Homo sapiens: one gene and its partners. The protein of the gene in region 3 binds, or shares a complex with, the protein of the main gene of each other region. Each region holds a gene or a part of one and is shown on either strand. Other genes may lie near its edges. The genes, in order: DRC12, DRC1, DRC10 and DRC5.

Region 1 (7,967 bases), on a different chromosome or scaffold from region 3:
TTATTAACATTAGTGTCATGTCAAAGAAAAGAGTCAAACTCTGTAAAATATTTGAAGAGATTTATTCTGAGCCAAATATGAGTGACCAATGGCCCGTGACACAACTCTCAAGACATCCTGAGAACAAGTGCCGAAGGTGAACAAGCTACAATTTGGCTTTATACATTTTTTTTTCAGACGGAATTTCACTCTTGTTGCCCAGGCTGGAGTGCAATGGCGCGATCTCGGCTCACTGCAACCTCCGCCTCCCGGGTTCAAGAGATTCTACTGCCTCAGCCTTCCAAGTAGCTGGGATTATGGGCGCCCACCACAATGCTTGGCTAATTTTTTGCATTTTTAGTAGAGACAGGGTTTCACCATGTTGGCTAGGCTGGTCTTGAACTCCTGACCTCAGGTGATCCACCTGCCTTGGCCTCCCAAAGTGCTGGGATGACAGGCGTGAGCCACTGCACCGGCTTGCTTTATATATAAATTTTAAGAAAACATAAGACATCAATCAATATATGTAAGATGTACATTGGTTCAGTCTAGAAAGGCAGGACAACTGGAAGCGAAGAAGCGGGCAAGAGAATTAGGGTTAGAGTTAGGGTTCCAGGTCATACGTGGATTCAAAGATTTTCCAATTGACAATTGCTTGAAAGAGTTATTATCTAAAGACCTGGAATCAATAGAAAGGAATGTCTGGGTTACAATAAGGGGTTGCAGAGACCAAGGGTTTTTTGTTTTTGTTTTTGTTTTTTTGACAGAGTTTTGCTCTTGTTGCCCAGGCTGGAGTGCAGTGGCGCAATCTCGGCTCACCACAACCTCCACCTCCCGGGTTCAAGCGATTCTCCTGCCTCAGCCTCCAAAGTAGCTGGGATTACAGGCACCCGCCTCCACACCCGGCTAATTTTTTGTATTTTTAGTAGAGACAGGGTTTCGCCACGTTGGGCAGGCTGGTCTCAAACTCCTGACCTCAGGTGAATCCACCTGCCTTGGCCTCCCAAAGTGTTGGGATTACAGGAGTGAGCCACCGTGCCCGGCAAGAGACCAAGGTTTTATCATGTAGATGAAGCGTCCAGGTAGCAGGCCTCAGAGAGAATTGATTGTAAATGTTTTTTCTTCTTATCTTTTCTCTTTTTATTTTTTGAGACAGGGTGCCACTGCATTTCCCAGACTGGAGTGCAGTCACGTGATCATGGCTCACTGCAACCTCAACCTTCCCAGGCTCAGGTGATCCTCCCACCTCCGCCTCCCAAGTAGCTGGGACTACATATGCACACCACCAAACTGGGCTAACTTTTGTATTTTTTGTGTAGATGGGGTTTCACCACATTGCCCAGGCTGGTCTCAACCTTCTGGCCTCAAATGATCTGCCCGCCTCAGCCTCCCAAAGTGCTGAAATTACAGGCATGAGCCACCAGGCCTGTAAATGTTTCTTATCAGATTTAAAGAGTGTGTTCTATCAGTAATTCTAAAAGGGAGGAGGGTATGTTGAGGCATGTCCGGCTCCCCCTTCCCATCACGGCCTGAACTAGTTCTTCAGGTTCACTTTGGAAAGCCCTTGGCCTAGAGGAGGGGTCCACTCAGATGGCTGGCAGGCTTAGAATTTTATTTTTGGTTTATAGTCACTAAAGTTGGTATACAGGCGCCCACTACTAAATTCCACTGGCTTCAAAAATAAATAAATAAAAGATTAGAAGAAAAATATCCTCCAGATTTGGGAGATGTCCACAAGATTAGTTGACTCTGAGTTACAGGAGCTGGAAGCACTTGGGAAGTCAAGACTGGCTCTTCTCTTTGCTCTGTAAAATGCCCGGAAGTTCATGTAAGTGCCGTGCAGCCACCAAGGTGACAAGCATGAACCAGCCTCTGCCTAAAGTTACCCACTACCCAGAAGAAGGACTTTTCAATTCCAGATCTTGTGGCTTTTTTTTTTTTTTTTGAGATGGAGTCTTGCTCTGCTGCCCAGGCTGAAGTGCAGTGGCGCAATCTCTGTTTACTGCAACCTCCTCCTCCTGGGTTCAAGCGATTCTGCTGCCTCAGCCTCCCCAGTAGCTGGGATTATAGGCACGTGCCACCATGCCCAGCTAATTTTTGTATTTTTTAGTAGAGACAGGGTTTAATAATGTTGGCCAGGCTGGTCTCGAACTCCTGACCTCATGATCTGCCTGCCTCAGCCTCCCAAAGTGCTGGGATTACAGACGTGAGTCACCGCGCCCAGCCTCTTGTGGCTATTTCTACAGATCTGCTCCTGACAATAGGCAATGGACCAAAAATATTGAGGGTGACAGAGATGAAGAGAAGTACCTAAAGAAGGCCGGGCACAGTGGCTCGCGCCTGTAATCCCAGCACTTTGGGAGGCTAAGGCGGGTGGATCACGAGGTCAGGAGTTCAAGACCAGCCTGGCCAAGATGGTGAACCCCCATCTCTACTAAAAATACAAAAATTAGCCAGGCGTGGTGGTGGGCACCTGTATTCCCAGCTACTTGGGAGGCTGAGGCAGAGAATTGCTTGAACCTGGGAGGTGGAGGTTGCAGTGAGCCGAGATCACGTCACTGTACTCCAGCCTGGGCAACAAGAGCGAGACTCTGTCTGAAGAAAAAAAAAAAAAAAGATAGGCTGGTGCAGTGGCTCACGCCTGTAATCCAAGAACCTTGGGAGGCCAAGGCAGGTGGATCGCTTGAGGCCAGGAGTTTGAGACCATGCTGGACAACATGGTAAAACCCCATCTCTACAAAAAATACAAAAATTGGCCAGGTGTGGTGGCATGCGCCTGTAGTCCCAGCTACTCAGGAAGTTGAGGTGGGAAGATCACCAGAGCCCAGGGAGACTGAGGCTGTAGTGAGCCGTGATCATGCCACCGCACTCCAGCCTAGGTGACAGAGAGAGACACGGGAAAAAAAAAAAGAAACCTAAAGAAAAGAAAGGGTCTGCAGGTCCCCTAATCCAAAAGGAGAAAAGTCCTGAAGTTTTTGCTATTTTCACTCTAACCAGTATGGTGCCCAGAGATCCAAGTGGCAGATAAATGGCAAGCCTCCAGGATAGCACAGAGCTGGAGGGAAAGTGAGGGCTGCCTGACAAGGGAGGGCCACCCATCATACTCTCTCCCCAATGTTAATTCTTCCAGCCACTCCTGGCTCAAACAGGACGCTAAGAAGTATCCCCAAAGGGAGTCACCCCCACTGTTGCCCAGTAAATAATTTAAAAGCAAAAATGTAGGAAACTCAGGAGAAGGTCAAACAAGTCCACTAGAGGGAGCCCCAACCAACTCTATGCTACAGGGAGCCTCACAAAGCAATGTCTCAACACCTGTCTGAAAATCAACCACACAAGGGAATGGGGAAATGTAGCAATAGATTAAGTCACTAGGAGAGAAGATAGCCATGTAAACACGCAGCTAAAACACAGGCTTTTCAAGAGCTGCAAAATCAAACAATTAAAGATCAGGAAACTGATGCTGAGCAAAGTCAAATGGCTCGCCTCAGTTTACATATCCACAGTTGGGACTCAAACTCACATGTCTTGTCTCTAACCTGAGCTCTTTCCTCCACACTTGCATCCCTCTAGGTCAGTACCCTAGAGTCCATGGGTCCACTATTCCTCTGCGTCTCATTTCTCTGAAGTGGGAAACTCCCTGGACTACCTATTCCTGCACTTATTACCCTCATTCTACAGTGTACTGAAGAGGATCTTCGGTGGTCTGGGAGTTTTGTTTGTTTGAGACAGGGTCTCCCTCTGTCATCCAGGCTGGAGTGCAGTGGTGCAATCATAGCTCACTGCTGCCTCAACCTCCCAGGCTCAAGTGATTCTCCTGCTTCAGCCTCCCAAGTAGCTGAGACTACAGGTGTGCACCACCACACCAGGCTAATTTTTTAATTTTTTTGTAGAAATGAGGTCTCACTGTGTTGTCCAGGCTGGTCTCGAACTCCTGGCCTCAAGTAATCCTCCTGCCTCAGCTTCTCAAAATGCTGGGATTATAGGCACGAGCCACCGCCCCAGCTTAGATCTTCAGTTTTAAGCCTACTAATGTCATTTTGCTGGTGGGACCTCGGGATGTCAGTTGTCCAACATGGCTACTGTCAGTCCTTTTCCTCTGTATCAGCACCACATATTATCTCAGATGTGTACATCTGAATTTGGAAGTCTCCAAATTGCAGGCCATGTCTACATGGCAATGAATCATAACTAATCGACCTCCAAAGCCCTTTCTTTTCAAACTATACTTAGGATTTTGGGATAAGGAAAGAACTGACCCTTTGAGACCTTGATATTTTAAACTTTGTGAGCTGATTTAGCCCATTCCACCTTCCTGTGAACTCCATGTTTCCCAGTTGCCTGGACAACATACAGCCTCTGGAAACCCAACCTTCCAGCCCTCAGTCCTGCCCTCAAGAGAAATTTGCCACCAAGGATTGGCTCCCAGGACCCAGGCCCCGCCTCAGGCTCCTCGCTAGTTGGGCCTTCTCTCTGCCACTCCCCACGAGTGGGTCACTCCACGGGGAGCCCCAACGCTGGCAGGAGAGGATCCTACAGGTAGGAAGTGAGGGTTGAGGATGATGGGAAGAGGGAGGGGAGCAGGTACAGGGATTTCGTTTCTCTAAAAGAGAGTTGCAAGGAATGACTTCTGTACAGAGTCAGCCTGGTTGAGAGAAAAAACTCCATCCTCCCCACTGACCCCAACCCTGTCTGAGGTTCCAAAGAGACTGTGAACTGACTTTTCTGAAGGATATGAGAGACAAATTTGGACTCAGGAGAGTCTCCTGGTTCAGTCTAAAGCTCAGGAAAGCATCCCTGTGTCCAGACCTAAACATAAGGTCCCCTCCTTCTCCCAGGACAGCAAGGAGATGCCACCTAAAAACAAAGAAAAAGGGAAGAAATCTGGGGCACAGAAGAAGAAAAAGAACTGGGGTGAGTCATGGTGGGTGGAGGTGCCCCCTGCTTCTCCATGTTCTGCCATGAAGACCACGCAGAGCTCCTCCAGAGAGAATTCAGCCTTCTGCAGGACAGGATGGAGCTCTCTTGACCTACCTCTTTCATGTCCTCACAGCCAGATCCAGGGAGCTGAGGAAGTGGGGAAATGGTCACCCACGCTCTCCTTTAAGCCCCATCTAGCTCTGTGCCTTCCTAATATATTTGTCATGTGTATTTTGCATATCTGTTATGTGCTGGTCGGTGAGGACACGGTGCTGACTTCAGTAGACTCTGCCACTGTGGATACCTCATTTAGTGGTCCTCAGGTCTGCTGTGGCAAAAGTGCAGGGTGTGGGGTGAGGATGTGAGCAGAGTGAGGAATGCTGAGATCATGAAGAGCTGAGGCTCTGCCACTTGCCACCGCAGGTGCAGATGTGGTGGCCGAGTCCAGGCACAGGCTGGTGGTGCTGGAGAAGGAGCTGCTCCGAGACCACTTGGGTAAGGAGGGTAGAAGCTGGCATGGGTGGGCAACAGGGGAAGTGAAATGGGGCATTTCTGTATCCTGGGGGATTGGAGAGTTGGAGGTATGGTGGGGGGTTAAGTTGACCCTAACCATCCCCTAGTGGAAAAAGATGATGAGAGAGGGTGGGCAGTGAGAGTTGATAAAGGAAGGTGTTTTTTTTGTTTGTTTGTTTTTTGTTTTTTTTGGTTTTTTTGACAGAATTTTGCTCTATTGCCCGGGCTGGAGTGCAGTGGTATGGTCATAGTCCACTGTAATCTCTAACTCCTGGGCCGCAACAATCTTCCCGCCTCAGCCTCCCGAGTAGCTGGTATTACAGGTGCACACCACCATGCCTGGCTACTTTATTTATTTATTTTTTTTTTTTTTTTTTTTTTTTTTTTTTGAGACAGAGTCTTGTGCTCTGTCGCCCAGGCTGGAGTGCAGTGGTGTGATCTCGGCTCACTGCAACCTCTGCCTCCCAGGTTCAAGCGATTCTCCTGCCTCAGCCTCCCGAGTAGCTGGGATTACAGGCACGTGGCCACCACACCTGGCTAATTTTTGTATTCTTAGTAGAGACGGGTTTTCACCATGTTGGCCAGGCTGGTCTCGAACTCTTGACCTTGTGTCCCACCAGCCTTGGCCTCCCGAAGTGCTGGGATTACAGGCGTGAGCCACCGCGCCTGGCCCTATTTATTTTATAGAGACAAGGTCTCACTCTGTTGCCCAGGCAGGTCTCAAACTCCTGGCCTCAAGCAATTCTCCCACCTAAGCCTCCCAAAATATTGGGATTACAGGCATGAGCCACCATGCCAGGCTATCCGAAAAGAACATAGAGGGAGTTTTTACTTCTTAATAATGAGGAGCCTGTGAGACTCTAGGGATAAAAAACAAAAACAACAAAACCCAGAGAGAGAGTAAGAGGCTGGACACCCCACCACCAGATTTCTAGAGGTGGGCAAAGTCCATCACGTTCATGGGGGCTGATTTAGTGGGACCCAGCCAGTCCTGACGGCGGCTCTGGGACTGCTCACAGCTCTACGGAGGGATGAAGCCCGTCGAGCCAAGGCTTCCGAAGACCAGCTGAGGCAGAGGCTGCAAGGGGTGGAGGCTGAGCTGGAAGGGGCCCGAAGTGAAGGGAAGGCCATATATGCAGGTGTGTGGTCGGTTAAGCAGGTGGGCAGGAGACAGGGGCTTGGAGGAGGACAACCAACAGGGTCAGTTGATGCAAGGAAGGGAAACAAGGAGGGCTTCCGACTGCCAGGCCTGGTCTTGGTCTTTCCCAAACAGTACAAATCAGGAAGGATCCTGCAGGAACCAAAGGCAGGTAGGTTCCTGGGATCCCAGGCAGGGGCCTTCCAGGATGCCTGGTGCCATGTGCTTGATGCTGTGTAGGATACACATGCAGTCATAGCCATCATCTCAATCAGCCCATGGGCGGGGAGAAGGGCTAGCATCCCCATCCAAAGCTGGACTGGGGGAGGTAGGTCGGGCTTCCTGTCCCTTCCTCAGGTTTTCATGGTCTGCAGCTTCTCAGAATCACAAAAAGAACCAAGAAGGCCTTTGTGCTCCTGTTCCACTAGACCAAGTAGAGTCTTCCCCACCCACAACTTCATTTCCTTTCTCCATCCCTCCATCTCCAACCTGGGTCCCTGGTGGCCCACTGCCCCCACCCCAGAGATGAGTCGCCAGTGCCATGCCCTGCAGGAGGATATGCAAACCCGCAGCAAGCAGCTGGAGGAAGAAGTCAAAGGCCTTCGGGGGCAGCTAGGTAGGTTTCCCCACCCTCCAAGCCCCTTCTCTCCAAGAGTTGCAGCAAGGGCCAGCATGAAGGGGTAGACTTCAAAGTCTCTGCTCCAGAAAGCTGCCGTCTGGGCTCTTGGATCACTTTCCCCACTTTCGCTGACCCTCCACCACTGAGGACTGCAGCAGAGGGTTCGGGATACCAAAAATCTCTGCTGTAAGTAAAGAAGAGGCTCCAGGCGCGGTGGCTCAGGCCTGTAATCCCAGCACTTTGGGAGGCCAAGGCGGGCGGATCACCTGAGGTCAGGAGTCCAGGAACAGCCTGGCCAAATGGCAAAACCCCGTCTCTACTAAAAATATAAAAATTAGCCGGATGTGGTGGCGCACACCTGTAATCCCAGCTACTCGGGAGGCTGAAGCAGGAGAATCGCTTGAACCCAGGAGGCAGAGGTTGCAGTGAGCCGAGATCACGCCATTGCACTCCAGCCTGGGCAACAGAGCAAGACTCTGTCTCAAAAAAATAAATAAAAATAAAAAAGAAGATGTAGGCCTCACACCCCATTTCCTCCTCTCAAGTCCAGCCCTAACTCCCCACCACTGCCATGTCTCTTGTGAGCAAAACATATTCCCTTTTAGTTTAGCTGATTTCTACAATGAAACTAAGGGGAAATGTTTGACTTATTTACTTCTGTATCTTCAAGACCTAGCATCTGGTAGATCCTAAATAACTGTTCACCAAATAAATGAATAAACACTCCTAATAAGCAAAAATATTTTTAAAAACCAGGAAGCCTTTGCTTCTCTTGTCTCTTGCTTACAAAATAATGTTGAA
Region 2 (7,601 bases), on a different chromosome or scaffold from region 3:
CTCTCCCAATCAGTTTACCTCACTGGCTTTACAGCTCATCACTGTGCCCATCTCTTGCACCAACACATCCAAAACAGCACTTGAATTCAGTCATGTCCTCTCCATCCCCTCATGACAGCCTTAATCTGGGGGATCCTCACCTCCCACCTGGACAAGCCTCCTGATGCTTTCCCTGTATCCAGCTTCGCCCCTTCCCTGACGCCACAATGATCTCTCTAAAACGCAAGGCTAATCATGGCTCTTCGGCTGCTTCAAATCCTTTTCTGGCTCCCACCCACCAACGGGTAAAGACAAAGATCTTGGGCACATTGGGCAAGGCTCTCCAAGACCTGGCTAGCTCCCCACCCACCAGTGCCACCTCCCAGGCCCTTGACACTCCAGCCAGACCTCCTGTGATGATTCTTGAACAGACCAGACCTTCCCCATGCTGTCATTTCCTGAAATGCCCTTACCTCCATTTTATCTGCCTGGGAACACCTAGTTCCAGTGCCATTTCCTCCCAAAACCCTCTGACATGCCAAATGGAAACGGCCACTTCCTCCTCTGAACAATGGTGCACCTTGAATGTGCTTTGACCATTACTCTGATCACAAGGCAGTGCCCCCACAGTGCTTACACATGGCAGCCTTCAGTGCATGTCTGCTGAATGAATGATGAGTGAAAAAAGCACAGATCACCACTATGCCCTATTGCTTTCCTGACTGTCCAGCGATTGGTTGCCCCAGCCCGCCTTCAGATAGCCCTGTCCTTAGTCCCCGCATCTTGCCCAGCAGACTCTTCTCCACTCACTGGCTCTGCCTGGCTCCCCAGCCCATCCAGCTCCCCTGGTTCTGGTCTCAGGCAAGCCTTCCAGCCCCGCAGCCCACCTAGGCTTCTTCAGACCCATGACGAAGGCCTCCAGAATCTTGAGGACATCATTGGGGTGGATGACCCAGGGGGAGGGTGGGGTCTCCTCCTCTTCCTCCTTCTCCCCTTCCACCAGGCTTTCTTCCTTTTCTCCCTCCATCTCCGTCTGCTCTGCCAGCTCCAATTCTGACCTCGTGCTTGTCTCCTCCATGCTCGCCTTCTCCATGCTCGCCTGACTGCAGGGCTTGATCTGGAGAAAGATGCACGGACAACTGTGGGCTGGGGACACACGAGCATGAGCATGGAGAGAGAGGCAGGAAGAAGAAAAACCAGAAAAGTTTACAGAAAGTGACAGCTTGCCCAGGGAGACATTTACACAGGGACAGAAACAGGAGAAAGAGTGGGAAGAAGGGGGATGGGATGGGGAGAGGCACTAGGAGGCTACGAGAAAATGGAAAGGTTCTGTTTCTAAATCCGGGCTCCTAGGTGCTCACCTTACTGACATTCATAAAGCTTACATGTTAGAAATCTTCTTTTGAATCATAATACAGATTAAATTTTTGCTTTAATTGTTAAATTTAAAAGGTCTTCCTCCTACTCCTATTTTGCAGTTCATGCAATTGACCTCCCACAGGCAAACGAATGCTATCAAGTTTCCTATGGTTCCTTCCAAGGAAATAGTATGTCTATATAATGTTTATATATAAATACATGCGCATACCTTTCCATATATACTCCTCCTTCTCGTTTTGACATCAATGATACTATACTACAAATAGAGTTCTGTAGTTTGCTTTTACACTTACCAATAAACCTTAGGTACCTTTTCATGTGAATACATAAAGAACTTTGGTTTTTTCCCACAGTTTTATAGTACCCCATCGTGTAGACATACCATATATTATTAAATAGATTCCTCAACAATGGACATATAGGTTGTTTCGAATCTTCTGCCATTTCAAACAATGTACAGTGAATCAGCTACAATAAATACACCATTTCAACTGTAATGAGATATATTTAGAGAATAAAATCCTAGAAGAAGAATTTCAGAGGCCAAGGTGGGCAGATCATTTGAGGTCAGGAGTTCGAGAGCAGCCTGGCCAACATGGTGAAACCACATCTCTACTAAAAATACAAAAATTAGCCGGGCGTGGTGGCAGGTGCCTGTAATCAATCCCAGCTACTCAGGAGGCTGAGGCAGGAGAATGGCTTGAACCTGGGAGATGGAGGTTGTAGTGAGCCGAGATCGTGCCACTGCACTCCAGCCTGGGCAACAGAGTGAGACTCTGTCTCAAAAAAAAGAAGAAGAATTTCAGAGTAAAATGTATATAGTTTTGTAATTGATACTGCCAAACTGTCCTCAATGGAGGTTACAATTTATACTCCTACCAGTAACTTATGAGTGTGCCTGTTTTCTACACCTCAGTCATCGCTATGTTATACTTGCTGTGTTATCAAGCTTTTTTTTTTTTTGCGCCAACATAACAGGTTGGCAAAATGGAAATCAGCCATTTTAATTTGCATTTCTCTTATTACAAGGAAGGCTGATTGTCTTTTCATATGTTTAAGAGTTACCTGTATTGCCTCTTCTAGGAGTTGTTCATTCATATTTGTTATCTGTTCCTTTTGTTGGTCTTTTTCTTATTGATTTCAGAGAGCTCTTTATATATTAAGGAAATGCCTTAACTATGATATGAGTTGAAAATATTTCTCTGCAGCTTGTCATTCATCTCTTAACTTTGCTTATCATGATTTTTGCACTACAGAATTGTTTTTAAATTCTGTAGTCAAATATAGCTTTTATTCCCTTTATGGCTTTGTGGTTTTGTCCATTTCTGCCAGCTCTTTTTTTCTTTTCTCTTTTTTTTCCCTTAGAGACAGTGTCTCACACTCTGTCACCCAGGCTGAAATGCAGTGGTGAAATCATGGCTCACTGCAGCCTCAACCTCATCATGGCTCACTGCAGCCTCAACCTTCTGGGCTAAACTGAGCCTCCCAAGTAGCTGGAACTATAGGCATGAGCCACTGTGCCTAGCCCAGCCAACTCTTTTTACAGGCATGTCAGGATACTCAGCTTTGGGCTAGCAGTACTAAAAACATTTTTCATTCACATTTTTCATTTTTAAATTAAAATGTTATATGACTTTTAATATGGCATCTTCTTTAAAATAGTTAATATTTGATTCACCTTCTGAAATCAATTACAATCAAGATATGTAGGACAAATGGGCCTTGCCTTGCGGGAAAGTGTTAAGGATCAAAATATTCAGAACCTGGTGGGCTCTGGTCTCACAGTGGCTGAGACCTGGTTTTGAGGGAGGGTGCAGGAAAAGATTGCTTGGGCCTCAGTATAAGAACAGCATCTCACCCCCAAGCCATTCTTCCCTTTACAAAGAGACAAATTGATAAACAATAAGGGAAATGCTAAGTTAGCTATACCTGACATAAAAGCCCCGCTATTTCTCCAGAAGTGCTACTCAAAGACAGCACTGTGCTCTGGGGGCTTCGGGACAATTGAAAATGCAGGGACATGGATGAAGCTGGAAACCATCATTCCCAGCAAACGATCACAAGATCAGAAAACCAAACACCGCATGTTCTCACTCATAAATGGGAGTTGAACAATGAGAACACATGGACACAGGGAGGGAAACATAACACACCGGGGCCTGTCGGGGGGTGGGGGCTAGGGGAGGGATAACATTAGGAGAAATACCTAATGTAGGTGATGGGTTGATGGGTGCAGCAAACCACCAGAGCACATGTATACCTATGTAACAAACCTGCATGTTCTGCACATGTAACCCAGAACTTAAAGTATAATAAAATAAATAAATAAATAAGAAAGAAAGAAAATGCTTTCTTCTCTCTGCACCTTGCCTTACCTGGAGGCTGGAAGATAAACGGTGAGCTCGATATTTAAGGAAGAAGTTCACCAGTTTATACAAGTCATCCTCACTTTCAATTCCAAGGGCCTGGGGCGAAAAACAGGATGGTTGCTCAAACACCCCATCAAGAGGCCACGGGCTTGGGCAGCTGACAGATGCTCAGCTCCTAAGAGCGGGAGGCTTGGCTTGTGGAGGGCATTCATCCAACGCTGGGAAGCGACTGTGAACTTGGGGACACACACATCAGAACACACGGAAACAATGCTCATAGAGCCAGGAGCTGCTCCATATGGATCCCATGGCTGTGAGGATGCCTAGTGGGGCTGCACCAGATTTGAGTTTGGGGGTGTCAGGGAGAACCTACAACCTGAGAGGAAGATGCTAGTAGAGGAAGAGGCAGGGGTGGGAGACACTGCAGTGAGTCTGAGACCAATGTGTTGTGTGGAGAGTAGGTTAAGGGAAGGATGTGACAGGGAGCAGGGGAAGCCCCGGGAGACCCTCGTCCACTGCCAGGGTTGAGGCAATGGCAGGGCCATCTGAGAACACGGCCGGCTGCAGCCCCACCCGTGTCCTCCCAGCCCCGTTGGACTCACGGAGAAGATGGCATCCAGCCTCAGCAGATAGCATTCATTCTGCTCCAGGGGCAGGAGAAGGCTCAGCAGCTTGCTCTCTATGAGGAACCCCTGGGGAGAAGGAAGAAGGCATCTCCTGTCGGGGACAGGTTTCAGGAGCGAGTCCCAGGGTCTGCAGCTGCCCCCTGTGTAACACTCCAGGGACCATGCCACGGAGCAGACGCCCAGGGATGGGAGCCAGCAGTGGGCCCCAGCAAAGCCTTCTTGGGGTGCCCATGAACGCCCCCCTCCCCAGGGAGCAAGGCCAGAGACAAGCAAGGCCAGGGACAAAGCCCATCCTCACCACAGACTTAGCTTTTCCCACCCAGAAGGGCACCAACCCACCTCACCCACAAGCCACTAGGCAAACTCCTGAGGCCCCCACCACAGTCCAAAGCTGACCCAGTCACAGGCTCCTGCTTCACCCATAGTCTTGTCCCCAAATATCTACAGAACACAGCAGCAGGACAGGGAGGCATGGAAAGCAGTGGGCACCCCAAACCAAAACACAGCACACATGCGGTGGAAGGGAGAGGGCGGCTGAGCAGATGCGGTGCCCGCTCTGAGCTGGGATGCCTGGGGGAGAGCTCCATGGGGAGGTGGCCTCTGCATCCAGCTGCAGGTTCAGAGGGCAGAACCTGCCACCTGACCCCTTCAGCAGCAGCTGCCCTCAGTGGCAAGAGCCAGCCAAAGGCAACTGCCCTCACTATCCTAAAAGAATACCCACTTCAGAACCGTAAGATCCAAACAAACACTGCCCATGTTTGACCACAACCCAACCTCCAGCTGAACCAGCTCAATGCAGCTTTTATTCTAAGGCTAATCATGTTTGCTAACATACAATGCAGACATCCAAATCCCAACATAGCCAGAGTCACCCCCAAAACAAGCCCCTGAGAAGGGCCATGTCAGTGTGGCCACATCACTTAGCAAGTTGGTTCATGGAGGTGAGCTGGTGCAACTTCTGTCTCAGAAGCAGCATCATTTTAAGCTGGCAGGAGCCCTCCAGCTGGCCTAAACTATGCCATGCTGGCCAACCAAGGTTAGACCCATTTTCCAGCTGGGCCAGCTCAGAGGCAAGGCCTCTATGAACCGGCCCTGAAGTCCAGGGGCCATCCTGACTCTGCTCCTCAGGGCCCAACCCTGGGCTTGGCCAGGGGAGGACTGGCCCACTCCTGACTCCAGGCTAGCACTGGCCCAGCAGAGGCCTCAGAACCTGCACACCCCCGTGAGTCCCTCTGCTGCAGCCCCCGCCTGGCCTCACCGACTCGTCACACAGGAGCATCAGGATCCTCTTGGTAGTTTTTTCAGAAATTTGCTTCGGCAAATCCAGGTAGGACTCTGGTTCCGCGGCGGCCTCTTCTGCCTCCTCCTCTTCTGCAGTTGGGTCATGGGGAGGAGAGAGAAAGAAAAAGAAGATAATTTCTGGAGCTAGTTGACTCTGAGAAACAGTCAGATGGCTTTCCTTGAGAAAATGTACCTCTTAAAAAGCCTCTGTGAGGCATTCTCTCAGTCTCTTTATGATGAAAAAAGCCTATTACGTGGCGGGAAGGCGGGCTAGGGGGTCGGAATCAGAGACTACCTGGAGAACTCGGCCATTCCCAGCCAGCCTGTAATGCCCTACTTTTCCAAATTGCGTCTACCTGGAAACATCATACTCAAAATCCAGCCATGAACCAGGAAGTGGGAGGGAGAGTGTGAGCCCATTTATTCTTATTTCAGAGATGATCTAGCAAGTGGCTATATAGTCTCTAAACCTGCAACAGATTAGACAGAAGCAGCCAACTCAAAGCAGGGGCAGGTGGCTTTGCACATTCACAGATAATTTTTTTTTTTTTTTTTTGAGATGGAGTCTTGCTCTGTCACCCAGGCTGGAGTGCAGTGGTGTGATCTCAGCTCACTGCAACCTCCGCCTCCTGGGTTCAAGTGATTCTCCTCCCTCAGCCTCCCAAGTAGCTGGGATTACAGACACCCACCGCGACACCTGGCTAATTTCTGTGTTTTTCGTAGAGATGGGGTTTTGCCACATTGGCCAGGCTGGTCTCGAACTCCTGAACTCAAGTGATCTGCCTGCCTCGGCCTCCCAAAGTGCTGAGATTACAGGCATGAGCCACGGCGCCTGGTCCAGAGAAATATTAACAGCAAGAACTGACAGCTGACAGCAAGAGCCAAAAATTTTCTTAATTAAAATTAACTTCTTAGGCCAGGCGTGGTGGCTCATGCCTGTAATCCCAGCACTTTGGGAGGCTGAGGCAGGTGGATCACTTGAGGTCAGGAGTTTGAGACCAGCCTGGCCAACATGGCAAAACCCCGTCTCTACTAAAAATACAAAAATTAGCTGGGCATGGTGGCACGCACCTGTAATCCCAGCTACTCAGGAGGCTGAGGCAGGAGAATCGCTTGAACCCAGGAGGTGGAGGTTGCAGTGAGCCAAGACTGCACCACTGCACTCCAGCCTGGGCAACAGAGTGAGACTGTCTCAAAAAGACAAAAATAAAACAAACGAACAAAAAACATAATTAAATTGTAAAAAACCATTCCCTAATAATCAAAAGCAAAACGAAACAAAAATACCTATATGTGTATCAAGCTGGTGATATAACCACACAGAAACTATTCCAAGTGCATTTATTTTTATTTATTTGTTTATTTATTGAGACAGAGTCTCGCTCTGTCACCCAGGCTGCAGTGCAGTGGCATAATCTCGGCTGACTGCAACCTCCACCTCCCGGGTTCAAGTGATTCTCCTGCCTCAGCCTCCTGAGTAGCTGGAATTACAGCCGCGCGCCACCATGCCCGGCTAATTTTTGTATTTTTAGTAGAGACAGGGTTTCACCATGTTGGTCAGGCTGGTCTCAAACTCCTGACCTCATGATCCGCCCATCTTGGCCTCCCAAAGTGCTGGGATGACAGGCATGAGCCACCGCACCCGGCCTATTTTTATTTTTTTTTTAATTTTTATTATTTTTTATTTTTTTGAGAAAGAGGCTCACTCTGTTGCTCATCCTGGAGTGCAGTGGTGCAATCTTGGCTCACTACAACCTCCACCTCCCGGGTTCAAGCGATTCTCCTGCCTCAGCCTCCTGAGTAGCTGGGATTACAGGCGCACGCCATGACCGGCTAATTTTTTGTATTTTTAGTAGAGACAGGTTTTCGCCATGTTGGCCAGGCTGGTCTCGAATTCCTGACCTCAGGTGATCTGCGCGCCTTGGCCTCCCAAAGTGCTGGGATTACAGGGGTGAGCCATCGCACC
Region 3 (7,601 bases):
ATCTTTTGTGGCTTCAAGTGTCACTTCCTTCTCCTGGGCAACATAGCAAGACCCTATATCTACAAAAATAAAAATACAATAATTAGCTGGGAATGGTGGCACGTGCCTGTAGTATCAGCTACTCGGGAGCATGAGGCAGGAGGACTGTTTGAGCCCAGGAAGTCGAGGTTGCAGTGAGCCATGATCGTGCCACTGCACTCCCTGGATAATGGGAAGGCCAAGACACCATTGTCCACTGCAGTATGGCAGCTAGAGCTCAATGAGTTTAAAAGTGAGCTCATTGTCCTCCCCTCCAAATGTCCTCTCCTCTCCCAATTTCTGCCATAGTTTCTTAAGGGCCCCATCTTTCTCTACCAGTCACCCAAACTCAAAACTCTTTCACTCAAGTCCTAATGATTCTTTCTTCAAAACATTTCTCACATCTACAGACAATATGAAAATAAAAGTGGCACAGGTAACCTGTAAGTAGTAACTTACAGCTTTCATTGGTGCTTACTTCTTAGGAGAGGGGGAAAGACAGACAATAAACAAATAAACAGGTGCATATAGGGATGTCAGATGGTGATACTTAACCTGGAGAACGAACAGGATAAGGGGGAAGAGATGAAGAAGAATCAGGGTGAGGGATGGGGATGTTATGGGGGGTGTCCATCTGAGACATGGTGTTGGGGGGTGAGCAGACATCCTGGGCAGTAGGTGTTCTTTTTTTTTTTTTTTTCTTTTTTTCTTTTTTAAGAGATGGGGACTTGCTATGTTGCCTGGGCTGGTCTTGAACTCCTGGGCTCAAGCGATCCTCCCACTTCAACCTCCCAAAGTGCTAGGATTACAGGCGTGAGCCCCTGTGCTTGGCCAAGGCAGTAGGTGTTCGTTCAGCAATTGCATCAGAAATCATTAAAGTCCTGGACTTGGGATTTTCGTTTTCCTGGGTTAGTGCTATTAGTTATTTATTGAACATTTTTTACAGCGTGCAGGCTTCTCATTCATCCTGAGGACTCTTGTTTTACAGCTGAGGAAGCCCAAGCTCTGGAGGATTAAATGACCAGCCCAGAGACCCCCAGCAAGGATTTGAACCCAAGTGGGGCTGTGCAAAGCTAGTACTTTTAGCCATTGTACTATGAAAGCAATATAAATTACTGATCTCTGATTGCCCTATAGATTTTTCTGAAACAGTTATTTATTTGTCTATCTATCTTTTGAAACAGAGTCTCATTCTGTTGCCCAGGCCGGAGTACAGTGATGCAAACTTGGCTTACTGCAACCTCCGCCTCCTAGGTTCAAGAGATTCTCATGCCTCAGCCTCCTGAGTAACTGGGGTTAACCTGAGTAACAGGTGCGTACCACCATGCCTGGCATTCTCTCGTATTTTTATTAGAGACGGGGTTTCGCCATGTTGGCCAGGCTTGTCTTGAACTCCTGACCTCAGATGATCCACCTCCCTCGGCCTCCCACAGTGCTGTGATTACAGGTGTGAGCTACCATGCCTGGCCTGAAATAGTCTTTTAACTAAACTTTTTACTTTGTAATAATTGTAGATTTATAGAAAAGTTGCAAAGATAGTACAGAGAGTTCCCGTATGCCCTCCATTCTGCTCCCCCTAATGTTAACATCTTAGATAACCTTGATGTGTTTGTCAAAACCACAAAATTAGGCCCGGCACGGTGGCTCCTGTCTGTATTCCCAGCACTGGGAGGCTAAGGTGGGAGGATTGCTTGAGCCTAGGAGTTCAAGATCAGTCTGGGCAACATAGTGGAGCTCATCTCTATAAAAAGTTAAAAAATTAGCTAGGCATCGAGCACCTATAGTCCTAGCTACTTGAGAGGCTGAGACAGGAGGATCACTTGAGCCCAGTAGGTCGAGGCTGGAGTGAGCCATGGTCACACTATTGCACTCCAGCCAGGGTAACAGAGCGCCTACAAAATTAATGTTGGTACAATGCTATTAACTAAACTTTAGACTAGATTTGGATTTGGATTTGGATTTCTCCAGTTCCACTAATGTCCTTTTTCCACTCCAGAACCCAATCCAGAATACAACATTACATTTAGTGAAACAGTTTTTTAAATTGTATTTCAAAGTTATATTTCACCCACCAATTTTTAAAATCAGTACTTAAAAATGGCCAGGCGTGGTGGCTCAGGCCTGTAATCCCAGCACTTTGGGAGGCAAAGGCAGGTGGATTGAGAACAGCCTGGCAAACATGGCAAAACCCTGTCTCTACTAAAAATACAAAGATTAGCCAGGCGTGGTGGTGTGCACCTGTAGTCCCAGCTGCTCAGGAGGCTGAGGCAGGAGAATCACTTGAACCCAGGAGGCAGAGGTTGCAGTGAGCCGAGATCATGGCACTGCACTGCAGCCTGGGCGACAGAGCAAGACTCTGTCTCAAAACAAATAAACAAACAAACCAAAAAACTTTAAAATCAGTGAAAATGTGCCATTCCTAGTCCTGTTAGTCTTACACTGCATTCTGCCCTGTCCCTGTCCTGCTCAGACATAGGCTGAGGCCTGTGGTTCCGTCGCCCAGGCTGCTTGTCAGTTGGTTTCCTGCTGGTTTTGGCCAAGGGCAGTAGAAAGAAACCAGGGTATTTCTCCTCCCCCACCGCCACCCTTCTTTAATCTGCATTTCCGGCAATGTCTCTAGCTCCTCTGGGAACTGATGGCTGTGGTTCAAACTTCCCCTGGGTGACCCTGGGCCCCAGGCTCACCATCTCTTCATGTGGTGGCTTCCTGCCATTGACAATTGCGGGATGGCTTTGTCTTCCCCTGGTTGGCCTCTCAACTCTCCCATCACTGATGTAACCAGTCTCTGGTTTTAAATCCTTAGAATGCTGTCTGTATGCCTGGCTGGTCCCCGCCTGACACATGTGCCTGAGATGCCTCCACACTTGGTCTTCCTGCCCTTGTGGCCCTAACACCCTCACAAAGCTGAAAACTGCTTCCAGTGAAAGGTTCTGTGTAAAAGCGACAGAGGACCTAAGATGAACTCTTGATGTCAACAGTTGTGGTTTCTGCAGCCACACTAACCACACAGATGTCAGCACAGCTGCACTCACACCTACTTCTTCATTTTGCAGGATGGCCAGAGACAATAAAAGCACGAGACCCAAGTAGTCTACCGAAGTCTCCATCTCTGTGGACCTACAGAGGCACAGAGGGCTGCTCACAAGATGGCTTTAGACATTCTCGCCATGGCCCCTTTGTATCAGGCCCCTGCCATCAACAGAATAGGGCCAAAGACAGACCCATCTAAAAGGCCAGCTGATCCACTAAAACCCTTGGTTCTCTCTAGGACCAAACTCACCACCATTGAGGCCAAAAGGATCATGTCCATCCTGGATGAGGCGATCTACAAGGTGGAGCTGGTGACCTTGCTGTCGTATGTGGCATCCAACAGAGAGGATATGGAGGGGATGCTGGGGGAGGACGTCATGAGGGCAGTGAGAGAGCATGAGGATCTCTGCCAGGTCCTCCTTGAAAACGTCAGGTGCCTGAAAGAGAAAGAAAGGCAATTGCAGGAGCAGAAAGAGGCTGAGGAGGAAGGGTGGCTCAGAGACCGCCTCCTTTCCATAGAGCTGCAGAAATCCAGCCTCTCACCACTTATGCAGCAGATCAAAGACTCCACCAAGAACGTCCTTAGACTCTTGCTCAGCAACCCCCAGGCTGCTAGGCTCCTGCAGATGCAGACACAGGGTAGAAGTGCAGAAGCCCAGAATTTTATTGACAGCCTGATAGAGCTCCGTGGTTTCCTGTTTGAAAAACTACTCACTAGTCCCATGGAAGCGAGGGATAAGGCCCAGTTCTTACAGGATATCAGTAGACAGAATAGTAATAACCAACAAATCATTGATACTCTTGAAAAGGAATTGGCGGAGAGAATGAAGAACAGGAATGCAGAGGTATTGTTTCATAGTATTGCTGAAATTACTGAAGAAGCCACACAAATCTTTTGTTGGTTGGGTTTTTCCTCAATGATTGATTTTTTTTTTAAGATGGAGTCTCGCTCTGTTGTCCAGACTAGAGTGCAGTGGTGTAATCTCGACTCACTGCAACCTCTGCCTCCCAGGTTCAAGCGATTCTCCCACCACAGCCTCCCAAGTAGTTGGGATTACAGGCGTATGCCACCACGCCCGGCTAATTTTTGTATTTTTAGTAGAGACAGGTTTTCGCCATGTTGGCCAGGCTGGTCTAGAACTCCTGACCTCAAGTGATCCTCCTGCTTTGGCCTCCCAAAGTGCTGGCCACTGCGCCTGGCCAATTGATTGACTGATTTTTTTGAGACAGGGTCTCACTCTGTTGCCCAGGCTAGAGTGCAGTGGCATGATCACAGCACACTGCAGCCTCCATCTCTCAGGCTTAAGCAATCCTCCCATCTCACCCTCCCAAGTAGCTGAGACTACAGGTGTGTGTCACCATGCCTGGCTAATTTTTTGATTGTTTGTAAAGATGGGCTCTTGCTACGTTGCCCAGGTTGGTCTCGAACTTCTGGGTTCAAGAGATCCTTCCGCCTTGGCCTCCCAAAGTGCTGGGGTTACAGGCATGAGCCACTATGCCCGGCCTCCCCAGTGATTTTTTTTTTTTTAAGATGGAGTCTTGCTGTGTCACCCAGGCTAAAGTGCAGTGGCAACATCTTGATTCACTGCAACCTCCGCCTCCTGTGTTGGGAATGGGTGCTCGGTGTCGCCAAAATCAACACTGAGACAAAGGATCTCTCAGCAAGGCTAGTTTACTCTCTGCAGAAAGGGTGCTGCTTGCTAGCAGTCTTGCCACAAGAGCACACATGAACAAAAGAGACGGGGTCATTTATAACCTGACGCATCCACCCTACTGCTGTGTCCAGTTTCCATTGGCTGGAACAGGACCTCACATTCTGTACTCAACCCGATTGGCTAGCAATTTAGAACTTCCCAAAAGAGGCAAAGGCAGAGGGAAACAAAGGAAGAGAGCAAGTAACTCCTGGAATGCTGAGAGAGGCAAAAACACCTCCAAATAAGGAAGAGGAATAGGCTATGACCTAATGCTTGCTTGGACCGGTTCAGGTATGCCAAGGCAAATATCTAAGCTAAAATGTGGGAGCTAAGAACAGAGTATATTGATTTCTTTTTTTTTTTTTTTTTTGAGGCGGAGTCTTGCTCTGTCACCCAGGCTGGAGTGCAGTGGTGTGATATCAGCTCACTGCAAGCTCCGCCTCCAGGGTCACACCATTCTCCTGCCTCAGCCTCCCGAGTAGCTGGGACTACAGGTGCCCACCACCATACCCAGCTAATTTTTTTTTTGTATTTTTAGTAGAGATGGGGTTTCACCGTGTTAGCCAGGATAGTCTCGATCTCCTGACCTCGTGATCCGCCCACCTCTGCCCCCCAAAGTGCTGGGATTACAGGCGTGAGTCACCACGCCCGGCCTATTGATTTCTTTTTTTTTTTTTTTTTTTTTTGAGACGGAGTCTCGCTCTGTCGCCCAGGCCGGAAGCCGGACTGCGGACTGCAGTGGCGCAATCTCGGCTCACTGCAAGCTCCGCTTCCCGGGTTCACGCCATTCTCCTGCCTCAGCCTCCCGAGTAGCTGGGACTACAGGCGCCCGCCACCGCGCCCGGCTAATTTTTTGTATTTTTAGTAGAGACGGGGTTTCACCTTGTTAGCCAGGATGGTCTCGATCTCCTGACCTCATGATCCACCCGCCTCGGCCTCCCAAAGTGCTGGGATTACTGGCATGAGCCACCGCGCCCGGCCTGATTTCTTTATTACAGCTAGCAGAATTGAAGAATATTAACACAGGTCTTCGAGTAAATTTTGGTTCTAAGAGAGGTTACTACCTATTCTGAATTAGACTGGGAGGAAAGTCCCTTTGAAGAGGAACCTCTATTTCATTTTCTACATCCTGGGTTCAAGCAATTCTTCTGGCTCAGCCTCCCGAGTCTCTGGGACTACAGGTGCCCGCCACAATGCCCAGCTAATTTTTTTATTTTTAGTAGAGATGGGGTTTCACCGTGTTGGCCAGGCTGGTCTTGAACTCCTGACCCTAAGTGATCTGCCCGCCTTGGCCTCCCAAAGTGCTGGGATTATAGGCGTGAGCCACTGCGCCTGGCCTAAGTAGCTTTTTTTTTTTAAAAAAAAATTCATTTACTCCACAAATTATTGTAAGTACTTACTAGGTGCCAGGTCTTATAAATAAGCCCATGTGGTTCCAGCCTCATGGAGTTCACAGTAAGGAAGGTAGGAATTAAAGAATTCATTTAATTACAGTTTTGAGAAGTACAATGTACTTCTCAAAGGGAGTGTTACAGGAGAACTTAACACCAAAAGGTCAGGGACATTGAAGCCAAGATATGAAGAATGCGAGGGCGTGAACCAGGCAAGTGCAGTGAGGAAGAACCTTCCAAGCTAGGGATCAGCGAACTATTTTTTTTTTTTTGAGACAGTCTTACTCTATGCCCAAGCTGGAGTATAATGGCATGATCTCAGCTTACTGCAGCCTTCACCTCCCAGGTTCAAGTGATTCTTGTGCCTCAGCCTCCTGAGTAGCTGGGATTACAGGCATGTGCCACCACGCCTGGCTAATTTTTGTATCTTTTAGTAGAGACAGAGTTTTGCCATTTTGGCCAGGCTGTTCTTGAATTCCTGGTCTCAAGTGATCCTCCCACCTCCCACCTCAGCCTCCCAAAGTGCTGGAATTACATGTGTGAGCCACCGCACCTGGCCCCAACTTTTTCTACAAAGGGCCAGATAGTAAAAACATTAGGCTTTGTGGGCCAGATGGTCTGTTGCAATTACTCAACTCAGCTTTGCTGTTATAGGGGAAAAGCAGCCACAAACAATATGTAAATGAATGGGCTGTGTTCCAACAAAACTTTACTTACAAATACAAGTGGCTGGCTGGATTCGGCCTGTGGGCCATAGTTTGCCAACCCCTGTTCCAGGTGGAGGGTAGAGTGCACCTCAGTAATGAGACAAGAATAAGCCTGGCTAGTTCAGAAACCCAGAGAATGCCAGTGAGCTAGAGGGAAGGGACAAAGATGGGCTGGGAAAGCAGGGGAAGGAGACAGATCACACAGGGCCTTTGAGGCCTAATCAAGGAATTTGGTTTCTAGAAGTTTTTAGTTTTAGAGACAAGATCTTGCTCTGTCACCCAGGCTTGAGTGCATTGGCACGTTCATAGCTCACTGCGGCCTTGACCTCCTGGGCGATTCTCCTGCCTTAGCCTTTTGAGTAGCTGAAACTACAGGCATGCGCCACCACTCTTGGCTAATTTTTTACATTTTTGTAGAGACAGGGTCTCGCTATGTTGCCCAGGCTGGTTTCGAACTCCTGGGCTCAAGCAATCTCCCTGCCTCAGCCTCCCAAGTAGCTGTGACTACAGGCACATGCCACCATGCCTGCCTAATTAATTTTTTTTCTTTTTTTAGAGATGGGGTGTCTGGCTGGAAGTAGTGGCTCACACCTATAATCCCAGCACTTTGGGAAGCCAAGGCAGATGGATCACTTGAGGTCAAGAGTTCAAGACCAGCCTGGGCAACAGGGTGAAACCCCATCTCTACAAAAAAAAAAAAAAAAAAAAAAAAATTAGCTGGGCACAGTGGCTCATGCCTGTAATCCCAGCACTTTGGGAGG
Region 4 (8,095 bases), on a different chromosome or scaffold from region 3:
TCAGCCTCCCGAATAGCTGGGATTACAGGCATGCACCACCACGGCTGGCTAATTTTGTATTTTTAGTAGAGACGGGGTTTCTCCATATTGGTCAGGCTGGTCTTGAACTCTCGACCTCAGGTGATCTGCCCGCCTTGGCCTCCCAAAGCGCTGAGATTACAGGCGTGAGCCACTGCACCCAGCCTAATGTAGCAAACTTTTTAAAAAGTAGAAGTTGTAATATATTGTTTCTGACAGTTTAAGTGTGCAGAAATTACATATATAATACACATGACTACATATAAGATATCAGGATATATGTATTCCACACCTTAGTGTGAATGAGTTTCAGATACAAAAAGCAAAGTTAGAAAAGGGGCAAGGGAGGCGGGATATGGTGGCTCATGCCTGTAGTCTTAGCACTTTGGGAGGTCGAGGAGGGTGGATTACCTGAGGTCAAGAGTTCAAGACCAGCCTGATCAACATGGTGAAACCCCGTCTCTACTAAAAATACAAAAATTAGCCAGGCATGGTGGCACATGCCTGTAATCCCAGCTACTTGAGAGGCTGAAAGAGGTGGTTTATAAGATAATTAGGGGAAAAAAATGAAGGTTGAACCCAGGAGGCAGAGGTTGCAGTGAGCTGAGATTGCGCCACTACACTCCAGCCTGGGCAATGAGAGCAAAACTCTGTCTCAAAAAAAAAAAAAAAAAAAAAGAAAGAAAGAAAAAGAAAGGAGGCAAGGAGAATAACCACAGAAAGGAGAGGAGGTGGGGAGTGGGTAAAGGAGAAGACAGGAGTCTGAGAGAGCTCTGCCTGTTTCACAGATTGGTCTTAGTCTGGCCTGGCAGTCATCAGCCTGCAGCTGAGGGTGCAAGTAGGTGGCACTATCTTCCCTGGGAGCCTGCAGGGATGGGTGGATACCCAATAGCTGGGGGCCCCGGGCACATGGACAGTCCCCAAGGACCCACAGAGGGCAGTCCTGGAGGTGGCTGAAGGGTCACCTTCCTCTCCGGAGCTTTCTTTCCCTGGGAACCTGTTGGGCCAGTCAGAGAATGCCAGAGTTTGAAGACTAGGAGCATGTTCAAGACTCCAGTCTTGAACATGGGCAGGGCAGGAATCCTGACATTCCAGAGAGGTCAGGGCCACCAGGAGTGGGTACGTCTTGTGCCACCACCTGGTGTCTCCATCCAAGGATGTGCTGCGCTCTCAGAGGGGGAAAGTGGGAGAGTGGGGACACGTGCAGTGGACTTTCACTTCTCTGGGGCCTGCCTCACCAGCTTGTTTGGCTTCACATGGTTGTGTCTCTAACCTGGGACCACAGTCCCCAGGGAAAGGCCAATCCTCCTCCCCTGGGCCCCTACTCTGCATCCTCAGGACCAGGGTCCAGGGTCCTGAAATCACACACAGGGAACAACGTCTATACCAGGACATTAACTCAAAGGATTGGGTGTGGACTGCTCTTTCCATGCCCAAGCACAGGTAATAGAAAGTGACAAGATGTTCCAGTTTGGCCAGGGTTGTCCTCATTTCTGATGGCTTGAATCTGGTGGACAGGTGTTCTGGGAACCATACCCTTGGCTATATATAGCTATGATTTATTGAGAGCTCTAGGCCTTCAATAACATGTACATAGCAGGAGGCAGGACAGCAGCTGGCTAAGTACTCAGGAGTTGTGCTGCTGCCTCAAGTCAAATCTCCACGGTGCCCCCCACTATCTGTGCAACCTTGGGCAGGTCCCCACTTGCCTCAGTTTCTTCATCTATAACGTGGGGACAGTACTTAATAGTATCTATTTCATAGGATTACTCAGAAGATTAAGGAGCTAATGTGTGTGAGACATTTCATATAGTGCTGGGCCCAGAGCCAGCACTCAAGATGTGTGTTAGATATTGTAGTGAAGATGCTAGATACCTTACTACATAATTTTATTAAAATCTCAAATTAATTATTGAGGATTATTATTTAACACTATTGTCCCCATTTCACAAATGAGGAAACTGAAACTTAGAAAGCTTAAGTAACTTACTAAATGTCACTAGCTAGTAAGTGGAGAAGCTGAGGTTTTAGTTTGTGTCTGTCTAATGCTCTTACTTCCATGAGATGCTGGGGTTGCTTATAAATTGCTCCCAACTCAGTCATTCATAGCACTTTTCCAGTGGGTCTCCCACTTTCTCCAGCTCATGAGCTCTCTTGTTCACCAATATGGAGCCCAGGGTTATACCCTTGGTGCTGACCTAAATAGTCCAGGCTCCCTCTTCCAGTTCACTGCTGGGTATAGGAGACTTCCGCAAGGCTGGACCACTGCCTGCATCCTTTGGAGGGTGCAAGGAGCCCAACAGAGTGCTGCAGAGTGGTGCTCTCCTGCCCCTGGCATATTCCCTCCACAGGAAGTCTCAGGTCTTCTCCATCCTTCCTCAGGTCCCCAGCTAAATCTAACCATTCTGGGTAGGAGCTCCTTCCACCTGCCCTAATGGGAACACGAGGAAGATGCTGTAGGTTTGCATTCTCACCTTCTTGTGCATCACAGTTCTGGTCCTCAACTGTCCCCTCCTCCCTTCCTCTTAGTGGAGAAGTGGAGACACCCGGCCCTCTTTGGGCAGACAGCGCCTCTGTGCCCGGGACACTTCCCCAGGAGCTGGCTTTGCACCCACTGCTCTGACTGCCTTCTCTGCCTTCTCAGCCGCTCCCACCCCAGATCCCCTCAGGAGAGCCCTCCTCTGTTCTCAGGGCTCTGGGCTTTTGTCTACAGCCACCTCCATATCCTTCATGCCCACCATGTCTTACTTTGGGGTAAGTCACTCCCAAGTTGGGAATTCCACTTGTGGAAGGGCAAAAAACTTTCTCCAACTGAGCCTCGGCCCGTGTGCTTGGACTTGGGCTGGGTGAAACCGCCAGTTCACTTACCACAGCCCCTGGGCTGGCCTCCTCCCAACTCCTGACCACTCAGGTCTGTTGTCTCAAAAGTGACTCCAGCGGCTCTGGAGTCTCCCACCCCTCCTCCCTACCTTCAGCTCAGACACCCCAGCAGAGAAGCTCAGCTCCAAAGGCCAGGAGTCCCTCCCCCATCCTACCTGGGGTGTAGAGGCGCTGGCTTCTCCTTGGTAACCCAGGGAAACCGGCAGTGCAGTGGGAGGTAGGGAGATGAGGAAGCTTCCGCACCCGCGGGAGGGATTACAGCCCTCGGGTGATGGGAACGGACGGCCTTTCGGAGAAGCCTAGGGCCCCAGGGCTTGGGACCGCTCTCCTCCACGCCCTACGGATGCCCCACTTTCCCCCTCTTCTTCCCAGTCCCTCCCCTCGCCTCACTCGGATCCCCAGCCCCGGGCCAGACGGTTTGCAGACAGTGACTGTGGTGGGGAGGAGGCGCGGGGCGTCCTCGCGTGGAGGGCGTGGGGTCTCCCGTGGGTACGGACCGGCGCTTCCCCGCCACGGAAAACGCAACCCAGGCAATGGCCGCCCGTGGGCTTCGGGCCGGTGTGGGCAGAGGACGCTAGAGGGGCTCCCGGGCCCAGCCGGCCAGAGGGGGCCCCGATAAGGGAGACCGGGGCTGGGTGTCCCCACTCCCGGAGGTCGCCTCACCCGCTCCGGGAGCCCCGGCGCTCGCCTCACGCAGAGTCCCGCGCGCCGGCGCAGGTCTTTGTCGTTGGGGACGCCCCGCGTTGCTAGGAGCGGGCCGGGCCGGGAGGACGAGCGCGCCGCTGCTTCCTCCGCTGCCGCTGCCGCTGCGCGCCAGGCACGCGGCTTACTCGCGCGCAGGGTGGCCAGGCCCGGCCTCGGGACGGTTCCGTGGAAGCGGCCGCTTTGCGGGTAGTGGGACTGTGGCCTTGCGCTATGCCCTGTGCTTCCGTGGGACGTGTCTAGGAACGGGTGGGCTTTCTGCGGGAGGCGGGGGTCGGGCAGGGCTGCTGGTCTGGAGTGCTTGTGCTCTCTTGGTAGCTTTTGTGTGGCAATGGATAGGGAGCTGGTCCAGGAAAAGCGTCTGTGGAAGAAGAGGAGGGTGGACGCACCTTCTCCAAGGCACCTGTAGAAGTCACTGGAACTCCCGTGAGGCCTCCTGTTGACCTTAGGCCCTGCGGGAGGGAGGGCACCTTCCACCTTTCCCCCAGCTGAAGGTCTGGTACCAGACGCAGGAAGGTTCCAGGCCAACACAGCGCTCCTTCACACAGTCCATGCCCTGTGCCAAACTCTCTTCCAGCCCTGGCGCGACAAGATGTGGTTGGGGCCCCAGATCTCCTGGAGGGCGAGAGGGACAGACCAGAGGGACGGCTAGTAAAAAAAAAGAAATTGGCCTTCAGGAAGGGAGAGGCAGCCAGGGTGGCGGGGCTTTCAAAGGGTAGCTTTGACTTCAGCTCTGCCGAGGACTACTAGTTGGTTACCCTGGATGAACATCTCGAAGCTCTGTTAACTCATCAATAAATCAGGGGTGCCAAAACTCATCTTGGCGCTCGCGGAGGAGCTTGAACCTGGGCCTGTGGTGAGCACTGCTAAACAGGCTACTGCCCCAGTGGCCAGGATGCTGCTTTGCAAGCAGTGAGGGGCCAGGCACCCGGGATTGGGTCCCTTCAAGCCCTCAGCAGTGCCTTACCAGCAAATCATCAGTGCCTTAATTAGAATGAGAAACTGCAGAAAATGATGCCAGGCGGGCCCACGCTGCTCGAATAATTTTTACTAGACAGAATTTGGTAGCCAGGGAGCCCTTGATTTGAAGATGGATCCCCTGAGGCCCTTTCCTTCATCTAGCAACAGAGATCTAGGAACAAAGGCAGAGGTCCAAAGTCTGGCTGTCTGAGGTGGACTCATTCTGGTAGGGAAGGAGGGCTTTCCTCCATCTCTGCTTCCTCCTGCTTTGAAGTGCCAATTTTCAGCTTCAGCTCAGGCTTGAGGCAGGTGCTGTACAACTTGTTTTAATAAGCATATTGTTTGTCTGACCCCGCTCTCCAGCCTCCTCACCTGCCCCTATCCCAGCTCACTGCTCAGTGGCACTGGCCACCTCACGGCCTCTGCATTGGCTGTTCCCTCAGGCTGGAATGCTTTTCCCTGATTTCCACACGGGTCACACCCTCACCTCCCAGCTCCCTGCTCACATGTCACCTCTTGGTGAGGGAATATCACCATCCACACTCCTGATCCCCATTCTCTATTTCCCCCCCAGACCTCATCACCATCTGACACTTTCTCCCTTCTTTTTTTTAAGACAGGGTCTCACTCTGTTGCCTGGAGTGCAGTGGTGCAATCATAGCTCACTGCGGCCTTGAATTCCTGGGCAAAGTGATTTTCCCACCTCAGCCTCCCAAGTAGCTGGGACCAAGGTGTGGGTAGTCTCAGCTACCTGGGAGGCTGAGGCATAAAGATTACTTTTTTTTTTTTTTGTAGACAGGGTCTTGCTGTTTGCGCAGGCTGGTCTTGCACTTCTGGCCTCAAGCGATTCTCCAACCTCAGCCTCCTAAAATGCCAGGATTATAGGCATGAGCCACCAAGCCTGACCCTCTTCTTTTGCTTTATTTCCTGTTTCCTCCACATGAAGCAGGCTCCATGAAGGAAGGAACTGTCAGTTTAGTGCCCGCCACGTTCTCAGTTGCTCAATTCATCAACAAACCAGCAGGGCCCAATTTAAATTAGAGGTCATTGTTAATGAAAGAAGTAATAGCAAAGAAGGTCTCCAGTGCTGAAATGATTTTCACAGGATGGTTCTGTATCTTCCCAGTAGCCAGGGAGCCCTTTGTCTGCCCACTGTTGCCTGGCACGCAGAGCCTGTCCGAACACTCATGGCAATGAAGATGGCCCGATTTGGATCCTGGGTGGCCTTTCAGACAGTGTGAGTTCAGACTGGTCTTAGGTTGCTGGGAGGGGCAAAACTACTCTTTTTTAAAGGTAATAGAACCTTCTGGAGCTTGCTATCCTCTGTGAAATAATTATTTGAGACAGAGTCTCGCTCTGTCACCCAGGCTGGAGTGCAGTGGTGCGATCTTGGCCCACTGCAACCTCCACCTCCCAGGTTCAAGCGATTCTTCTGCCTCAGCCTCCCGAGTAGCTGGGACTACAGGCGTGTGCCACCACACCCGGCTAATTTTTTGTATTTTTAGTAGAGATGGGGTTTCACCATGTTAGCCAGGATGGTTTTGATCTCCTGACCTCATGATCTACCTGCCTCGGCCTCCCAAAGTGCTTGGATTACAGGTGTGAACCACCACACCCGGCCAGTGAAATAATTTCTAATGTGCAGTCACAGCCATAATTGTCCATGTCTTCTCTTTCACCAAGGGGGTGTGTGTCTTTGGGCCCAGTTCTGCCTTCCCTAGCCCATGTCTCCTTGTGTCACGTAGGCCCTGGCCCAGGTGATCTTCTTTGGCTCAGCTGCTTGGCCTCCAGCCTCTAGTCCTCGCTTCAGCATGTGGGAAGGTTCTGCTGGCTCCTTCAGGGCTCCTGGCATTGCCTTTAGTCCATGTGGGTCCCTGGGCGGACCTGGGTCAGAGCTGGCTGAGGGCATAGGTTTGGGCTATACTGAGGGCAGCTTCCAGGTCAGTAGTGCTTCCGGTGCCTTGGGCCACCACTCGTGAGCCCCACGCCTTGCCCCCCATGTGGCTGCACACTGCCAGTGCCCAGGCCTCTGCTGTGAAGGTGGGCATGGCACCCTAGGAACAGAATCAGAAGAGGAAGCGATGCAGAGTGGCCCTCCCTGCCAGCATCCACTCAAGGTACCCTCAAGAGTGGAGCTGAAGGTCATCAGTGCCCCCTTCCCAGCTGGGCACATGGTGGGGCAGTCAGGTGATGAGCCGGAGAAGGTTTGGGCTGGAAATGTGTGTGGGGAGGTGTATGAACGTGAACATCTGCTACTTGTTTACAAGGGATGTGAGGCCTGGGAGGGGTTAGGAATTAAGGAATCTCTTGGTGCCTTCTGGGGTGGGGAGGGGCTGTTTTCAGGAACAAGGAGATTCCCCATCCCTGTCCTGGAGTATCCTCATAGATACTTCCACCCAGCCTTGGCCCCTTTGGGAGGAATTAAAGGTGTAAAATCAGAGAGCTGGACCAGGATGGGTATTAATGGGGGCGGTGGGCTGCTCTCCCACTTCCCTCACCTGGGCCACCTGACAGGCACACAGCACCTTCCCCATGGGCTGGGGGCTGAGTAGGAGCACAGACGTGCTGGGGGCCTGCTCACACAGCTGCCGTACCACCTTCACCAGCACCTGGACCACGAAAGACAGATGGTGAGCCCATCGCTTCCCAGACCCCTAGCTGTCTCCTGGTCAGGACTTTGCCCTCCCCAGACCCTGGGGCAGCCCGGCTTGGCTAGCACTCACTGAGAGAGACTCAGCAGAGACTGTGTCCACAATCAGAGGCCCCTTCGAGTGCCGCTCCAGCAGCTCCTGAGTTTTCTTTGCAGCCTATGGGGCAGGAAGGACAAGCAGAGGGGTCAGGCTGAGAGGCAGGTTTCCAATTAGCCCCAACTTCTGAACTAAGCCCCAGCTGAGCAATCCCCTGCTTCCCCCACCCACCCCAAAAGTCATTAGCTCTAGGCAGAGGTGGCAGGGACTCTGCCTAGGGTGGCCTCCTTTTTGGGTCCCACATGTGTCCTTCCTCACTTCCCTCACCACTTCCCTTTCATCATAGCTTCAGGCCCCTACAAATAGGTCGCTGAAGGTGAAAGGAGGAAGGTCAGAGCACAGATGGACCAGGAGTGGGCGGGAGAAAGGGGGATCCACAGTGGAGGTGCAATCAGGGCTGAATGGCACTAATCAAGTCAGTAGGCTTCCGGGGGTTCTGAGCCAGACTTGGGAGTTGGGGGAGAAACACAGTTTGAAAGAGACAGAAGTGGGGGAATGGCCTGGGTGATGGTTCTCAGCTGGCAGGAGAAGGAAGCTGCCACCACCCCGTCCTTGCACAGCCTCTGACTCACCCCCATGCCCCAGCCCTTGAGACTTCTCAGTGTATCTGCTGGAGTGTCTCTGGGCACATGGGTGCAGCCAAACCTCCTCTCACCTGTCCCATTTGCAGCTTACGGATGGCAGTGTTGGCACGCCGCTGCAGCATCTTCACTGTGGCCAGCAGCTCCCGCCGCTGCCACTGGGGCATCACAGCAGTTTCCACAGCCTATGGCCAGAAGCAGTACATC

The links.
Region 1: DRC10 (region 3) and DRC12 share a complex: the UniProt entries of both Homo sapiens proteins name them as parts of the nexin-dynein regulatory complex.
Region 2: DRC10 (region 3) and DRC1 share a complex: the UniProt entries of both Homo sapiens proteins name them as parts of the nexin-dynein regulatory complex.
Region 4: DRC10 (region 3) and DRC5 share a complex: the UniProt entries of both Homo sapiens proteins name them as parts of the nexin-dynein regulatory complex.

What each region holds. Positions count from the first base shown.
Region 1 is NC_000011.10:119,192,347-119,200,313, reverse strand, and holds the start of DRC12 (dynein regulatory complex protein 12), read left to right. Parts: upstream 1-4,472; 5' UTR 4,473-4,515; intron 4,516-4,814; 5' UTR 4,815-4,826; coding exon 4,827-4,890; intron 4,891-5,319; coding exon 5,320-5,391; intron 5,392-6,428; coding exon 6,429-6,548; intron 6,549-7,070; coding exon 7,071-7,163; intron 7,164-7,967. UniProt on the Homo sapiens protein: Component of the nexin-dynein regulatory complex (N-DRC), a key regulator of ciliary/flagellar motility which maintains the alignment and integrity of the distal axoneme and regulates microtubule sliding in motile axonemes.
Region 2 is NC_000002.12:26,446,815-26,454,415, reverse strand, and holds part of DRC1 (dynein regulatory complex protein 1), read right to left. Parts: intron 5,726-7,601; coding exon 5,613-5,725; intron 4,421-5,612; coding exon 4,331-4,420; intron 3,825-4,330; coding exon 3,735-3,824; intron 1,097-3,734; coding exon 867-1,096; intron 1-866. UniProt on the Homo sapiens protein: Component of the nexin-dynein regulatory complex (N-DRC) a key regulator of ciliary/flagellar motility which maintains the alignment and integrity of the distal axoneme and regulates microtubule sliding in motile axonemes.
Region 3 is NC_000012.12:113,203,730-113,211,330, reverse strand, and holds part of DRC10 (dynein regulatory complex protein 10), read left to right. Parts: intron 1-1,202; exon of another isoform or gene 1,203-1,330; intron 1,331-2,821; exon of another isoform or gene 2,822-3,071; 5' UTR 3,072-3,164; coding exon 3,165-3,893; intron 3,894-7,601. UniProt on the Homo sapiens protein: Component of the nexin-dynein regulatory complex (N-DRC), a key regulator of ciliary/flagellar motility which maintains the alignment and integrity of the distal axoneme and regulates microtubule sliding in motile axonemes.
Region 4 is NC_000006.12:44,294,098-44,302,192, forward strand, and holds the start of DRC5 (dynein regulatory complex subunit 5), read right to left. Parts: upstream 3,602-8,095; 5' UTR 3,562-3,601; exon of another isoform or gene 3,054-3,561; intron 2,450-3,053; exon of another isoform or gene 2,217-2,449; intron 1-2,216. Other genes in the region: AARS2 (alanine--tRNA ligase, mitochondrial), read right to left, coding at 6,450-6,614, 7,059-7,169, 7,284-7,367, 7,963-8,073. UniProt on the Homo sapiens protein: Component of the nexin-dynein regulatory complex (N-DRC) a key regulator of ciliary/flagellar motility which maintains the alignment and integrity of the distal axoneme and regulates microtubule sliding in motile axonemes.